5 separate regions of the Homo sapiens genome follow, and regions 1, 2, 3 and 5 are each reported to be linked to region 4. Evidence: microRNA targets listed by miRTarBase, many of them from high-throughput screens and not tested one by one. Region 4 holds a microRNA gene; each other region holds the end of a gene's coding sequence.

Region 1 (3,000 bases), not on the chromosome of region 4:
TTTTCCAGGCATGTCTTGAACTCCTGGGCTCCAGCGATCCCACCCGCATTGGCCTTCCAAAGCGCTGGTATTATAGGCGTGAATCACTGTGGCTGGCCCTACCTGGGTTCTTAATCCAACTTTGCCACTGAGTGACTTTGGGCAAATCATTTTACCAGTTCCATCCCTTTAGCACTAAGAGTCAATGATATTATAATCTTACAAATCAGTCTCCTTGGACTCAGGTAATCCTCCCACCTCAGACTCCTGATTAGCTGGGACCATAGGTGTGCACCACCACATCCAGCTAATTTTTGTATTTTTGGAAGAGGCAGTGTTTTGCCATGTTGCCCAGGCTGGTCTCAAACTCCTGGGCTCAAGCAATAGGCCTGTCTTGACCTCCCAAACTGTTGAAGTTACAGACGTGAGCCATTGTGACAGGGAAAAAAAAATATATGTTTTATTTGACCCCACCCCTATGTGCTTCCTCTGAATTCCTAATGATAAGAATCCTCCTTTGTCTTGTTGGTAGAAATTATTAGGGTTGAATTACATTTTTTTCTTTCTGATTATGACATCAGATCTCAAGGATCATAAAGTTTAATTCACCTTGGTTCTACAGATTCGCTGATGTCAGAAGGCTGATCTGTGGTTTGAGAAAGACGGAAAAGAAACAGTTTCCAACCTCCAAACAAAACCCACAGAAAAGCCTGGTGGTGGAAGGTTCTAGGTAGAGAAAATCTAGACAATGACTGGACACAGTGGGCAAATGCCTACCTTTTGGAAATACAAACTCCACAGGGAACAATTTCCACAGAGAAGTTACATTAACTGAAGGTTGTCTTAGGACAAGGCTGAATAAAGTAAATATTTCAACACCATATGTTCAGCTTTGGCAGGAGATGTAGGTGGGAAGGGAATCTCAATTTTGGGGAATGCCCATATCACACCCCAGCTGGCTATGTAATCATGAAATAAGGAGAAACACATAAATATTTGGTTAAAACACCTTTAATGATAGAGGGAAAGACACTAATATCTCCCGTCTGTTCTTGACATTTTACTAGGTTAGGAAGCTCTGGAGCCTACAGCTTGAGGAGAAGCCATCGTTCAAGTCAGTCAATAGCAAAACCCTCACTCTCTCCTCCTCAGAACTCCTGTTCCAAATGATCCTATGTTAAGAGTAAATACTACAACTCATTACAAGACGGAGAGGCAGGGAGGACGCCACCTGGAGCTGGTCTCCCAAAGTCTGGGACTCTTAAGAACCAGACAATGACAAAGACACAAGCCCCAGCCTACGGATAGGCAAAATGGGTAGGGGTCTTGAAAGAGGAAGATAAGGAAAATACAAGGGGCCAGGGAATAAAGGAGGGAGTTATCTAAAACTAGAAGCATACTAGTGCTAGGAAATCCCCCATGATCCCTGGTACACCTCTGCACACTATGTCACTATTAGCCCAAAAGAATATTAACGAGAATGTCCAGACATTCACAAGAATTTGAGGCCTTTTCCCTTACATCATGTCCCTTTCTTAGTCACATAGGTACCAGCAAGCCCTATGTTCTAGCAACATTCCTTAACTCTCTCATCATTAGTTCATCAACCATGCTGACCAAAAATGCTCCTTAAAGATACGAACTTCACATTTCCCAAATATCTCCTGGGAGACCTCTTGGCAAGAAATCAGCTTGTTTCCCAACTTTGAGAGGTCATCATGAATGAGAAGCTGGAGAGGTCTTGGCACACTGACCAGCCAAAACCTTTACCTTAATGTGACCATCAGGGGATTTACTGGGAAAATTTTCCTATGCCCTTCCTTCATTTCTCCCTACTTCCTAGGGTTGGGTCACCAATTACTGGAGCATCTTCAGTACCGGCACCTTCTGGAGCAGGGGGAGGAAGAAGGAATGTACAGTTTGCTACTTCTTGTCTATGATGGGCTTCTCAGGCACTGCCTTGGGTGCAGGAGGCTGAAATAGGAGGGGGGCTGTCTTCTCCTTGGCTTCCCTGGATCCCATTGTTGGAGGCACCTTCCCAGCCACAGTTCCTAGGCCAAACAGCACTGGTGGGGCCAGGCTTGGAGTGGTAGTGGAGGTGGAGCTGGAATTCCAGGGCTTCATGGGCAGGCCATTTGACAGGAATGCCACATACTGGTTCTAGAAAGATAGGGGACCCATACCCACCAGCTGAGCAGAAAGGTCACCCCAGAGGAGTGGCACTGGGCCCTCCAGAGACAGCTGCCAGCCCTTTTTGGCTAGGCTGCAATGCCAAATGTAGGTGCTCAGGTGCACCTACCAAAGGGAAAGGGAGAGGAGAGAGGAGGGGGAAGAAGGGTCACACCAGGGAAGCTGGAGAGGGTTCCCCTTGAGAAAGCTGCAGAGAATCTATGTTCCTCAGGTACAAAGAATGAGGAGGGAAGAAAAATTCCTTAGGGGGCCATCCCCTTGTAAGCACAGTAATTTCCAAGCTCAGGGACTACAGAAAAGCCACTAGGGACATAACATGTTAAGAACTTAGAGAAAAAGACAAAATCAGGGCTCATAACTCTGGGAGGTCCTTTTGTGAAGCTGTTTCTGCTCTGTGGGACAAAGAGCAGCAGGTACAGAAAAACAGGCTCATGGGATCGTGGGGTCATCTTTTCGGGGAAAGGGGGAGAGCCCTGTGGAGGTGATGGAAGGCGAACAGCCAGGGACTAGAGAAAGAGCAGCAATATTCTGAGGGCCATGGGGGGCAAAGGGCTGTACCTGGTGGTGTGCCAGGAGCATATGCTTCTTGAGGGTAGCCCGCTCAAGAAAGCCCTGCCTGCAGAAAACACAAGTGAAGAGCGGCCCCTCCTTGGGGTGGGTCTTCTGATGCTCCTCCAGAGCTGCCTGGGAGGGAAAGGCCTGGCCACACACTTCGCAGGCCTTTCTGCTGCTGCTCTCTCCTGGCTCCTTTCTCATTGCCTCCTGCAGGCTCAGCTCCTCTACCAAGGTCACGCTGGTGGCTTCCCCTTCTGGGGTGAGTGCTGATGCCGG
Region 2 (3,167 bases), not on the chromosome of region 4:
TCAAATTCACACTGGAATAAAACCACACAAATGTACGGAATGTGGGAAAGCCTTCACTAGATCAACTCACCTTACTCAACATGTAAGAACTCACACTGGAATAAAACCCTATGAATGTAAGGAATGTGGCCAAGCCTTCACTCAGTACACGGGCCTTGCTATACACATACGAAATCACACTGGAGAGAAACCCTATCAGTGTAAGGAATGTGGGAAAGCCTTCAATAGATCTTCAACGCTTACTCAACATAGAAGAATTCACACAGGAGAGAAGCCTTATGAATGTGTTGAATGTGGGAAGACCTTCATTACTTCTTCCCATCGTAGTAAACATTTGAAAACTCACAGTGGAGAAAGGTAAATGCAAGATATGTGGGAAAGAATTTCTGTATTCCTCACCCCACCTGTGAACTCCTACCAGAGAGAAACCTTTTGTATGTAAAGAATTTGGGAAAGCATTTGCTCTTTCCTCATGCCTAAGTATGCATGAAAGAATTCACACTGGGGAGAAATACTATGAATGTAAGGATATGAGTGTTGTTACCATTTAGCCCATTGGTTGCCATCTTTAATTATTGGCAGTGCAAAGATCATCAGATTAGTCCTAAATGCCTTTTGGAGGTTGTAATGGCTCACAGATTGGCCTTAGATGCATCCCGAGGGTCTGAAATTAAACCTACAGGTTCTGAATACAACATCATGGTTACCTGAGTCTGGGCATCTGTGAAGAAGGGTCATGGATGGTGAGGTCAGTACTGCAGGCTGCCTCACCTTGGTGATTAGATTCCTAAGATCATAGCATTAACAAGTTCTGTACGAGATAAATCATGCAGATTGATCCCAGCCCCTGTTGGTTAGTGGCTGCCAGTGTGGCACATTCATGTCAAAATTTACCAGAAGCCAAGATGATGTAGGCCCCAGAGGTGGATTGTTAAAAAGATGCTCCTCCAAGGTTCTCTTCTGTTCCCATGGATCCTGCAGAGCATGTCAGGAGTGAAACCATCCATAACTGCCAGTGCCCTTTCACAGCTGATTATTTCTATGTCCCCTTCTTGTAAAATAAGAAGTGTGACAACCTTGACTGTTCTGTTCTGTCTTCTCTGTCCATTTTAGGTGGCACAATGTAAGTGGCAGTGTCTCTTATAGTATAATCCAGTCTCTCTTCTCACTTCTGTTAAGATGGCTGATATAGTCCATGAATCCCACTCATGATCTCTTTATCAAATGATTGTTCAGCCACACTTTGAGGATTCTCTTCAGTACAAGTTTTCTAATTTTTGCAGTATGGATAGGCTGAGAATTTTCCAAATCTCCAAGTTCTGGTTCCTTTTTCCTTAACAATTTCTTCTGCAATTCAGGTCTCCTTTTGCATTTTTGCCGAGACCAGCTGGGTCGTGGAGACCCTAACCCAGTGGCTCTAGAGGAATTAAGACAAAGACACAGAAATATAGTGCAGAGTGGGAATCGGGGCTCACAGCCTTCAGAGCTGAGCTTGAACAGAGTTTGACCCACATATTTATTGACAGTAAGCCTGTGATAAACATTATTCCTATAGATTGTAGATCAGCTATAAGTATTCCTTATGAGAAAGAAAGGGACAGGCTCTGGCTTGTTATCTGCAACAGGAATATGTCCTTAAGGCACAAATCACTCATGCTATTGTTTGTGGTTTAGGAATGCCTTGAGCAGTTTTCCAGTTTTCTGCCCTGGGTGGGCCAGGTGTTGCTTGCCCTCATTCTGGTAAACCAGCAGCCTCCAGCATGGGCGTCATAGCCATCACGAGCATGTCACAGTGCTGCAGAGATTTTGTTTATGGCCAGTTTCTCATTGCCTGTTTATGGCCAGATTTGGGGGGCCTGTTCCCAGCACATTTTCCTGTAAGCACTCAGGAATAATGAAGCTTCCTGTGTCCTTTAACACTTTAATTACAGATCTTAGTGATACATACCATTTTATCTGTCTCAAGCTCTACCTTCCGTAAAATGCTAGAATACAGTTCTGCCAAGTTCTTCACCACTTTATATCAAGGGTTGTCTTTTCTTCATTTCCCAATAGCATGTTCCTCATTCCCCAATGACACCTCACCAGAATAACCCTTACCAACCTTATTTCCAGCTTGCACATCAGAATTTTTCCAGCCTCTACTCATTTGTCAGTTTCAAAGCTGCTTCACATTTTTAGTTTTTTTGTTTGTTTTTAATTGCAGTACCTCACTTCTCAGTACCAATATCTGCCTTAGTCAGCTCAGACAACCATAAGAGAATACCGCAGACCAAATGGCTTAGAAATTAATTTAATTTTAAATCAATGAGGTTAAAAACACAGGATTTTTTTTTTTTTTTTTTTTTTTTTTTTGAGATGGAGTTTTGCTCTTGTTGCCCAGGCTGGAGTGCAATGGTATGATCTTGGCTCACCGCAACCTCCACCTCCTGAGTTCCAGTGATTCTCCTGCCTCACCCTCAGTAGCTGGGATTATTGGCATGCACCACAAACCTTAGCTAAGTTTGTATTTTTAGTAGAGACAGGGTTTCTCCATGTTGGTTAGGCTGATCTCCATGTTGGTCAGATCTGACCTTTGGTGATCCACCTGCCTTGGCCTCCCAAAGTGCTGGGATTACAGGCCTGAGCCACCGTATCTGGCCCAAAACACAAATTTATATTCTCACATATCTGGAGGCTGGAAGTCTGAGATCAGAGTGCCAGCATGGTCAACCTCTAGTGAGAGCTCTCTTCCTGGCATGTAAGTGCCCACTTCCTCATGTTTTCACACGATGGAGACCAACAAATAGGTCGGTCGGTCTCCCCCCTCCCCGCCCCCTTCTCTTTTCACATACAGTCACATTGAGGTTTGGAACTTCATATGAAATTTGGGGGGTCACTGTGTGTGTGTGTGTGTGTGTGTGTATGTGTATATATATATACATATATATACACATATGTATGTATACCTAACTCCTAAAGTGGAACAGTAAGAGTCATTATTTATAGATTATCTGATTCTCTATGTGGAAAGAGAAAAGAATCATATTAAGTACTTTGGACTGAACAATGACCCCCAAAATTCGTATGATGATGAAGCTCTCTCTAAATATTTTCTTGCTTTACTGGACTGATTTTAACCCGCTGCACAACACCAACTAAAAGTAGTAATACCAGCATACTTGTCT
Region 3 (3,167 bases), not on the chromosome of region 4:
GCAGCGGCTGTGTTGCGGGAGAGCCAAATCCAGGTAACTTCTTTCTTCCCACACCCATTTCTCCCTGTCATCTCTGTGCCCTCCTTTCCCACCGTGCACCACCACCTTTCTCTCCTTTCCTCCTCTCTGTGTGTCCTTCATCTCTCTCTGCCCCCCATTGCTTCTGCCCGTCTCCCTCCATTTCTCTTGATCTCATCCCTCTCTTCCCCCTTATTTTGTTCTCTCTCTTCCTATCTCTCTCTCTCTCCCCCTCATCTCTCTCTCTCCTCCCCCTTTCTCCTCCCCTCCCCTCCCCTCATTTCATCTCTGTATCCTGGTCTCTCCTCCCCACAGACGCGGCCCCCTCACCTTCACCACCCGCACGGTGCGCCAGGTCTTCCGACTAGAGGAGGGCGTGGCATCCGACGAGGAGGCAGAGGAAGCACAGCCTGGGTCTGGGCCATCCCCGGAGCCTGAGGGGTCCCCACCAGCCCACCCCCAGTGACCCTACCCTGTCCCCAGATGCACTAACAGATGGGGCCCAGCCCCCTTCCTCCCTGGACCCCACGGGCCCCTGTCCCAGGAACCCCGCCCTCTGACTTCTTGCCCTTTGGAAATGGTGCAGCACTCTGGCATTTATCACCCCCACCTGGGTCCCCTGCAACCTCCCATCAAAGGATGACCCCTAAACACAGAGGAGCGGGGCAGGCAGGGAGGCAATGACTGGAGCTACCTTGCTTGTTGGGGGACTGGGTACAGTTGGCAAGCTGTGTTTCCATCAGCTCCCTGTCCTCCTTTCTTCCCTCGTTATTGATCTATAGACATTAGGAAGGGAGTGAGACGGCTCCTCCACCATCCTCAGCCAGTGCAACCCATTCCCTCTGCTTCTCTCTCTCTCTCTCTCTCTCCCTCCCTCTCCTTCCCTACCCTCTCACCATCTTTCTTGGCCTCTCTGAGGGTCTCTCTGTGCATCTTTTTAGGAATCTCGCTCTCACTCTCTACGTAGCCACTCTCCTTCCCCCATTTCTGCGTCCACCCCTGAACTCCTGAGCGACAGAAGCCCCAGGCCTCCACCAGCCTTGAACCCTTGCAAAGGGGCAGGACAAGGGGACCCCTCTCACTCCTGCTGCTGCCCATGCTCTGCCCTCCCTTCTGGTTGCTCTGAGGGTTCGGAGCTTCCCTCTGGGACTAAAGGAGTGTCCTTTACCCTCCCAGCCTCCAGGCTCTGGCAGAAATAAACTCCAACCCGACTGGACCATCTCTGTGGCTGTGTGTGTTCCTGCAGGGGGTCTCTGATGGGGCAGGATGGGCACAGGCTGCTTCAGCCTGCTAGGGCAGCAGGTCAGGCAGCCTGCTGGTTAGAATGACACCTGCGTGGGTATACAGGGACATCCTGTGGATCAGGCGCTTCATAACTCCTTTCCTCCTGACTCCAGTGTATAATGGAAATATTCCCTGCATTATACAGATGAGGGAACAGTCTCAGAGCAGCAGCATCCCTCACTCCACGCCCCCAGTGAGTGCTAGAAGGGGTGTTGCACTCGGGCCAACTCTTAAGTTTTGCAAAATAAATGACAGGCCTGCTGCAGTGGCTCATACCTGTGATCCCAGTGCTTCGGGAGGCTGAGGTGGGAGGATCACTTGAGCCCAGGGGGTGGAGGCTGCAGTGAGCTATGATTGCATCACTGCACTGTAGCATGGGTGAAGAGTGAGATCCTGTCCCAAAAGCAAAACAAAACAAAAAGACAGCCGTGGTCGTTTGTGCTGCGTGCTGTGCTAAGCACACAGTTTATCTTAACCCTTACATAGCACTACAGGTAGAGATTTCATTGCACTCCAGTGCCTAGAACAGTGTCTGGCACACAGCAGGCATTCACTCAATATTTGCTGAATAACTAAGTGATGCCCCTCCCACCCTTTTAGAGTGGTGGAAACAGGCTCAGAGAGGCTGAGTGACTTGCCCAAGGACACACAGCTACTAAGAAGTTGAAACAGTTTGAACCCAGACAGTCTGGCCTCAGAGTCAGCACATATAGAGGCTGAGCCCTCAGCCCCTGACCCCACCTTGGGGACCCAGGTCTGTCTCTCTCGTGGGAACTAGGCACCCTCGTGTGGGGGCTCACGTTCGTCAGACTGAGTCCTCAGTGACTTTTCAGTTAGAGGTGTGGATCCCCATTTTTACTATCAGGGAAACTGAGGCAGGTGCTTGCCCTAAATAAGGTGCAAGCCGTGGAGCAGATGTCACGATCACCAAAGCCCATCCTCCCCTTTTTTAAAAAATTGAGAAAGGGTCTCACTCTGTCACCCAGGCTGGAGTGCGGTGGCACAATCATAGCTCCCTGCAGCCTCGACCTCCCAGGCTCAAGCGATCCTCTCGCCTCAGCCTCCAGAGTAGCTGGGACTACAGATGCCACCACACCTGGCTAATTTTATTTTATTTTTTGTAAAGACAGGGTCTCTCTTGTGTTGCCCAGCCTGGTCTTGAACTCCTGGCCTCAAGCGATCTTCCTGCGTCCTTGGCCTCCCAAAGTGCTTGGATTACTGGCCTGAGCCACTGTGCCCAGCAATAGGGCCCCACTCTAGAAGTCCCAATCCCTCTGTGCGCCCCAGCCGCAATCAGGAGACTTTCCGAACAGGCACACAGGAGGCCATTTTTAAATGAAAAGGAAACGTTTATTTTGGTGGGGAGTGAGGGTGGGTGGGAAGGGGGCATGACACTTTTTCTTTGGGGAGAGGGGGGTGACATGCGGCAGCTTCTGCATTGGGCGGTTCATGCACCCAGGGTGGGCGTGGGGGAGGCTTGGGGAAGGGGCCACGCCGACCCCTCCCTCCCTGCCCTGCGGGTGGGCTGAGAAGACCCGCCATTAGCACCAGAGTTGGACGATTTGCAGACCTCCCCTCCCCACACTGTCTCCGAACCCCGCCCCCATCCCTGAGAGCGCCCCCTCACCACTCCCCCCACCAGCGACAGGCTAGGCCCGCCCCGCCCACATTTGAGTGAGAGAAACTTATTGCTCTGTGTGTGTGTGTGTGTGTGTTGGGGAGGGTGAGCCGCGGAGCTCAGGAAGACCCCCCGCCATTCATTCCTCCCCAATCGCCCCGCCCCCTGGCCCGTGTCCGTGCGTTCCCGGAGCGCAGGAGGGGTGCGACATGCGTGTGGGGGGCGCGTCATGCAGCGCATGCGTGTA
Region 4 (3,146 bases):
CTTGAAAAATTGTTTTTGAAATCTTTGGGATCTGGGGGAGCCAGATATTGTCCTCCCCATCAGCTGTTTGGAAAATTGAGATCAAAAAAAAAAAAAACAGTTTCAAAGCACTGGAGTTACGACTAGTATGTGGGTCTCCTGATACCTTTAGCAGTGCTTTACCCCTGGAACCAATGATTGTGATGTGCTTTCTAACAAGCTGGGAATATCATTCTTCTCATTTGATTTTTCTGCTTCAGAACCCAGAACTAGTTGCCCGGCTGGAGAAGATTAAGATACAGCTGGCCAATGAGGAATATAAACGGATCACCCGCAACGTCACTTGTCAGGTAAGGACATGCTCTTCAGTACGTGGTCTAGGTAGCCCCTCAGAGTAGGGCCCTGCAGTGGAAGAAGATACAGAGTTTAGAAAAAACATGGAAACTTGGTTTCTATACTGTTCAGGGACCATAGGAAGTCTGCATACAAACAACACAGTTCCCATCTCATTCACTGAGACTCTGGGCTGAGATGGTGACCAAGTTTTAAACGTCATAGAAGTGGGAGTTAGCCGGGCACGGCGCTCATGCCTGTAATCCTAGCACTTTGGGAGGCTGAGGTAGGTGGATCACTTGAGGTCGGGAGTTCGTGACCAGCCTGGCCAACATGGTGAAACCCCGTCTTTACAAAAAATACAAAACTTAGCCTGGCGTGGTGGCGGGCACCTGTAATCCCAGCTACTCGAGAGGCTGAGGCAGGAGAATCACTTGAACCCAGGAGGCGGAGGCAGAGGCTGCTGTGAGCCAACACTGCACCATTGCACTCCAGCCTGAGCAACAAGAGCAAGACTCCATCTCAAAATAAATAAATAAATAAATAAATAAGTGGGAATGAATCTTGGAGGCTTTTTTTCTTCTTCTTTTTTTTTTTTGAGATGGAGTCTCACTCTGTCACCCAGGCTGGAGGGCAGTGGCAGGATCTCTGCTCACTGCGGCCTCCGCCTTCCAGGTTTAAGTGATTCTTATGCCTCAGCCTCCCAAGTAGCTGGGATTACAGGCATGCACCACCACGCCAGGCTAATTTTTTGTATTTTTAGTAGAGACCACGTTGGCCAGGCTGGTCTTGAACTCCCAGCCTCAAGGTGATCCTCCTGCCTCGGCCTCCCAAAGTGCTGGGATTACAAGGTGAGCCACTGTGCCCAGCCATTCGAGCATTTCTTCTGACAGGGCTCCCTACTACTCTATGGCATGCTCCTACCCTGGAACAGGAGAGTAGATGGGTACTGGCAGCCTATGTCCTCTCTCCGAAATGCCTGCTCTGTAGTCCAGAAAAGAGTCAAAATGGTTCCAGACAAAAGAATCCATGGGGAGGGCAGAGTTAATATGTTGGGGAATAGAGAGGGCTGAGCCAGACTGTCAATGGATGCTCTCTGAGCTGCTTCTATTCTGAATCATCTTCTTTTTCTTTTTCCCAGGATACAAGACATGGTGGGACTCTCAGCGACCTGGGAAAGCAAGGTGAGGTACTAGGAGATCAGGCTTCTAAAACCTTTTCCTGAGATGGGTCATGACACTCAGGCTTGTTGTTTGACTGAAACCCAGTTGGTGGGGGAGCCATGAGATAAGAGCACCTCCTAGAGAATGTTGAACTAAAGGTGCCCTCTCTGGCTCCTCCCCAAAGTGAGATCATTGAAGGCTCTGGTCATCACCATCTTCAATTTCATTGTCACGGTGGTTGCTGCCTTCGTCTGCACTTACCTTGGAAGCCAATATATCTTCACAGAAATGGCCTCGGTGAGTAGGCACTGGGCAGGGCAGGGTGCCCCTGGTGGGGGTGTTAGTGGGTAAGGGAGGACGTATGTGAAAGTGCCTTGCACAGGTTAGGTATTGAACAGATATTTATGCCATTAATAAGGGGAGCATTAGAGCTTTCCAGCAGTCACGGGAGGTTAGGTAATAACCCCAGGAGAAGCCACATTCTCTTTTCTTCCCCTCCCCCAACTTAGAGGGTGGTTGGGGGGCTCTCCATCCTCATTAAAGTTGCTGGGGTACAGAGCTGGTTGTTGGCCTGCATCCCTTAAGCCTGGTTCTCCCCATCTCCAGCGGGTGCTAGCTGCATTGATCGTCGCCTCTGTGGTGGGTCTGGCCGAGCTGTATGTCATGGTGCGGGCAATGGAAGGCGAGCTGGGAGAACTGTAACTGGTGCTTCATCATCAAGTCTAGAGAAGACTTTGGGGGCTTCAGGCTCCAATTGGCAGTCACCGACTCAGTCAACCCATCAGACTTTTTGTATTCAGCTCCAGTTAGTCAGAAGACCAGCCCAGGCCAGCTGCTGTTTCTGTGGGGAGCCCTAATCTTCTGTGAATTTCCAAAGGGAGCATTGGAGGAGATTGAGATAACACATCTTTAAAACAGAAAGAACTGGTCTTGGTCTATCAGTACCTCTTCCTGAATCTGGTACCCATCTGCCTTCTCCAGTTCATTCTAAACACTGCTGGGACTAGGGTTTTTCCATCAGGAGCAAATGGAATCCAGGCCTTCCCAGAAGTAGACCATACTGCCTTGAACTTGTCCATATGTACAAACTGATCACCAGCTTTCTCCATACATTTTTAATGCAGACCTGTAATTGAGTTCAGAAGCCTCCAAGAAAACAGAAAGGATCCCCTTTCTCCAGTTTGTGCTGGAAGAGGAGCTGATCAGAGACATCAAATAAGAGAAAGATGGGTTGCTAGAGGATGGTAGAACTGGAAGCAAGGCAGCTACCTTTTTGCAAAAGGAAATGGTGTTAGGCCCCTTTTCCAGAAGATAAGACAGACTCATAGAGATTAAATGATCACTATGGTCCTTCTTCTGTTAAATGGAGCCAAAGACGCCTATGTTGTTCTGAAGTCTTGTAATGTTTAACTTCTGAGAACTTAGATTAGTGGTGTGATGATAGAGTCTGTATAACGCATTGAAAAGGGTATCAGGCTTAGTTATTTATCCAATAAATATTTATTGTATGCAGGGTATTCCTATTTTAACTCCTGTGACAACACAAAGCATAGCGATTTCCATAGTTCTAACTGTTCAGGGTCTGCTCCTCCTGGTACACTCTTTTTGGTTCACTGTATGTACTCCTGTTGTCTTTTTTTTTTTTTCCAAAGCACTTTTCTGTTTTCATAA
Region 5 (3,167 bases), not on the chromosome of region 4:
TATTTCTAGATTTGTGGGAAATACAGGAAAAAAAAAAGGCTAAGAGAATAAACAACTGCACCTTTCTGCTCCTGTGAATGAGAAAAGACAACTATTAGTACTTAAAGGTTTTACTCTTTAAAAACAATACAGCATAAGCACTCATAGTAGTAGTTACAGCAACATGGACCACTCTTTCCTCCTAGGGGATAGAAGATAATCAGACACTTAGCAAAGATGCTATTAGTATCTGGGAATTTGCCCCCAACTTTCAGAAAGACACTAAATTTAATCCATAGGAAAACATCTTTCAGAGTATTAGTTTCTAAAGTTTCCCTTTCAGCCCTACTTTTTGCAGCCTTTTTCACAGCCAATGGCAGATACAGGTGCAATAAGTAATTTCTGTGGTACTTATTCACTTGGGAGATTTTGGTGATAGTAAAACATTTTCTTTGAAAGTCATGTTTGTTCTTTTCACCAAACAGCAACTCTTAAAAGAATTTTCACTTATTTTTCCATGGAAAAACACTGAGGATATAATTTTTTTAAAAGAGCATTATTCAATGTTGACCTTCAAAAGCTGATTGTAAAATACCTCATCATATAATCTACAGCCAGAGAGTAACTCAGCAATTGTGTAGTCCAGCATTTCTACAACCTAGGTATCCACATGTACCTTAGGATGACATTGGCAGGTAGTGTGAGGAGCTAGGGGAATGGGGGGTGGTGGCAAGAATAACAAATAGTGGTACATGCTAAATTTAGTTTAGAAAATTCTGGGTTAATTCGATAAATATTTAAGGAACATCAATTACATGCCAGGCTGTCTACTAGATGCAGAGTAAGACAGATTTATACCAGAATTTTCTTAAAGCCTCGAACAAGCTACTGTTCACAATGAGCACAGTGACCATATATCCTAATTTGCTGTAGACAGCCCCAGTTTACAGGCGCTATTCCAGCATTAATATCATCTCTTTTTACCTCTATAATCCTACATATGACTCTCTAAGAGGTGTGTGTGTGTGTGTGTGTGTGTGTGTGTGTGTGTGTATGTGTGTAGCAAACAGATTTTCCTAAACTTAGATGGCCAATTACATACTTATACCTACATTCCTACGATTATCTCCTAAAACAGTGATCTTGGTCCACAGAACATAGTTTGGGGTCTACTACATTCTTATCATTTGATAGCTGAGGAAACAAAGGATCTGAGAATTAAATAGACTCAGCTAGAAAACGGCAGACATGGGATACTAAAGCCTAGGACTCCTGGCTCATAGAGATAGCTCTAATGCCCTTTCTGATATATCACAGACTGTGATACTAAAGCACCCTTAACATGATGTTAACAAGTTCTACTACAAAAATAAGTCAGCAAGTTTCACATTTTAATTTCATTTTAAAGGAAGTTCATTTTGTTCTTTTTCAATCATAACTGTAAAATTAATCAAAAACAGAGTCAATGAGAAAATATTATCTTTTAGGCAACTCTTCAAGACTATAAGCCCAGTTCACTTATTCCTACACTCTCCTTTCCCTCCCCTCACTCTCTATTAAATATAAAGTAGCTGATTTCTTTATGTCTTTATAGTATCATTGGCTTCACAGGTGTGTGCTGGGGTGGGGGAGGAGAAGTTAATTCTATCCATCAATCAACAACATTTTCAGTGTCTACCACAAAGCGTTCTGCTATAATATTTTACTCACATTGTGGTTCCAAGTGTTTTTTTTTTTAAAGTGAGGATACTATAATAGTGCCTTGGGCCATATGGTACTTACACAAATTCCAAGCAGTCAAATTACAATATAATTCCATTATTATTTTTAGGTTTCTATAAGCTTACTAACAGAGGCCATTTTCTGATTCTGGTTGCACCAAAAGGTATGGCCCTAGAAAAAAAATCATGCAAAGAATTTTATCTTTAAAAATTAGTTATTCAAATTTTTGATCATCCATGGCACTGATATTTCTAGCTAACTGCTATGCATTTTAAGCAACTTACACAGTTCTTCCAGAGAAAAAGGAGTGAATGATCATATAGTCTTTAAAAAGAAAGCCTATGAGCTAAGAAATAGAATAGCCTGTTCTGAAAAAGGAAAAAGTAGAAAATGTTAGTGAAAACAGGGTTTAAACCCTTAGGAAATTCATTTCTGTATAGGATATCATTTTGTTCATCACCAAGAAAAGGTAGTCAATATTAATTAAATCTTACACAGGCAAGATAACCAGTTAAGTAGATGAGAAGAAAATTGCAAGGTGAGTAAGGCAAAAAAAACATTTCTAGAAAGGAACTATTCTTGGATTTGCAGATGGAATATGAGGTGTACATGTAACAGAATATCCTTGTCACATATTGGAAGTTGTGATTGTGTGACAGAGCTCTAATGTTTGTAACACAGCAGACTCTTCTGTAATAATTATTTTAAAAGGCTTGCCTATGATAATTTACCATTTGAAGTAATGAACTTATTCAAGTATAACTATTGTACTTAGTTATAATCCCATTTTTTTTAAAAAAAGGAATACAGATATTGATCACATCAAACATTTTCATTGAGAAATTGACACGGACACTAATGAGGTTTATCATGGATGGTCTCAGAAGCTTTCCTGTGTATGTGAAGCAGAACTACAGGCCTTTTTGTATAAGTTCCTGTACATCTTGTCCATGCTGTTCTCAAAGATGGGTCGGTGGGATTTTCCCTTATAAGAGGCTGCCCTGTTGGACCAGTATTCACCGTCATCCAAATGGAAAGTGCCACGTGGCTGCTGACATGAGCTATAAAAAGGGATATAAAAGGTTCAAAACAATAATGAAACAAAATTAGAGATAGTACTATGTAAATCAAATATTTATTGAGTACTCTATGGCTATTTAATTCTCTGCTGGGGCTGTGAAAAATAAAACAGAGTAAGGCCTGTGCTTTCAAAGAGGGACATTTTAAAAGGGGAGGCAGAAGTATCTGTGTAAAACTGTTATAAAACAGTAAAATGAAAATTTTGTGTTAGAGTGAAAAAGGAATTCAGAGAACAGACACAGGTACAGCATAATAAAAGCAGAACATAATAAAAGCAGTTCTTATACTGGCCTGGTATGGCCAGTATAAGAATGCACAGCCCAAGGCACAGTGGCTCACGCCTATAATCCCAGCACTTTGGGAGGCTGAGACGAGCAAATCACCTG

The links. The annotated mature microRNA hsa-miR-4723-5p reads UGGGGGAGCCAUGAGAUAAGAGCA and lies in region 4 at 1,585-1,608, shown strand. An mRNA with a match to its seed (bases 2 to 7 or 8) in the 3' UTR can be bound and repressed. Matches are read on the target gene's strand: a 7mer-m8 pairs with bases 2 to 8, a 7mer-A1 pairs with bases 2 to 7 and ends in A, and an 8mer does both.
Region 1: miRTarBase lists SALL2 as a target of hsa-miR-4723-5p. Seed matches in the 3' UTR shown: 7mer-m8 at 1,875-1,881.
Region 2: the mRNA of ZNF562 is a reported target of hsa-miR-4723-5p. Seed matches in the 3' UTR shown: 7mer-m8 at 2,800-2,806.
Region 3: miRTarBase lists MYH14 as a target of hsa-miR-4723-5p. Seed matches in the 3' UTR shown: 7mer-A1 at 996-1,002.
Region 5: miRTarBase lists SPATA6 as a target of hsa-miR-4723-5p. Seed matches in the 3' UTR shown: 8mer at 1,604-1,611.

The regions. Positions count from the first base shown.
Region 1 is chr14:21,520,106-21,523,105 of GRCh38, forward strand. SALL2 (spalt like transcription factor 2) reads right to left here. Exons shown (of 2, transcript NM_001364564.1): 2 at 975-3,000. The coding sequence ends at 2,599. Among named protein-coding and RNA genes, the nearest start is that of SALL2, 4.7 kb to the right of the region's middle.
Region 2 is chr19:9,650,143-9,653,309 of GRCh38, reverse strand. ZNF562 (zinc finger protein 562) reads left to right here. Exons shown (of 6, transcript NM_001130031.2): 6 at 1-3,167. The coding sequence ends at 361. Among named protein-coding and RNA genes, the nearest start is that of ZNF562, 23 kb to the left of the region's middle.
Region 3 is chr19:50,309,307-50,312,473 of GRCh38, forward strand. It overlaps MYH14 (myosin heavy chain 14), which reads left to right. Exons shown (of 43, transcript NM_001145809.2): 43 at 334-1,234. The coding sequence ends at 484. KCNC3 (potassium voltage-gated channel subfamily C member 3) reads right to left here. Exons shown (of 5, transcript NM_004977.3): 5 at 2,631-3,167. Among named protein-coding and RNA genes, the nearest start is that of KCNC3, 18 kb to the right of the region's middle.
Region 4 is chr17:28,359,076-28,362,221 of GRCh38, forward strand. It overlaps MIR4723 (microRNA 4723), which reads left to right and starts at 1,579; the gene lies at 1,579-1,659. It overlaps VMA12 (vacuolar ATPase assembly factor VMA12), which reads left to right. Exons shown (of 6, transcript NM_152464.3): 3 at 240-329; 4 at 1,454-1,496; 5 at 1,660-1,772; 6 at 2,082-3,146. The coding sequence ends at 2,177.
Region 5 is chr1:48,296,132-48,299,298 of GRCh38, forward strand. SPATA6 (spermatogenesis associated 6) reads right to left here. Exons shown (of 13, transcript NM_019073.4): 13 at 1-2,762. The coding sequence ends at 2,582. Among named protein-coding and RNA genes, the nearest start is that of SLC5A9, 75 kb to the left of the region's middle.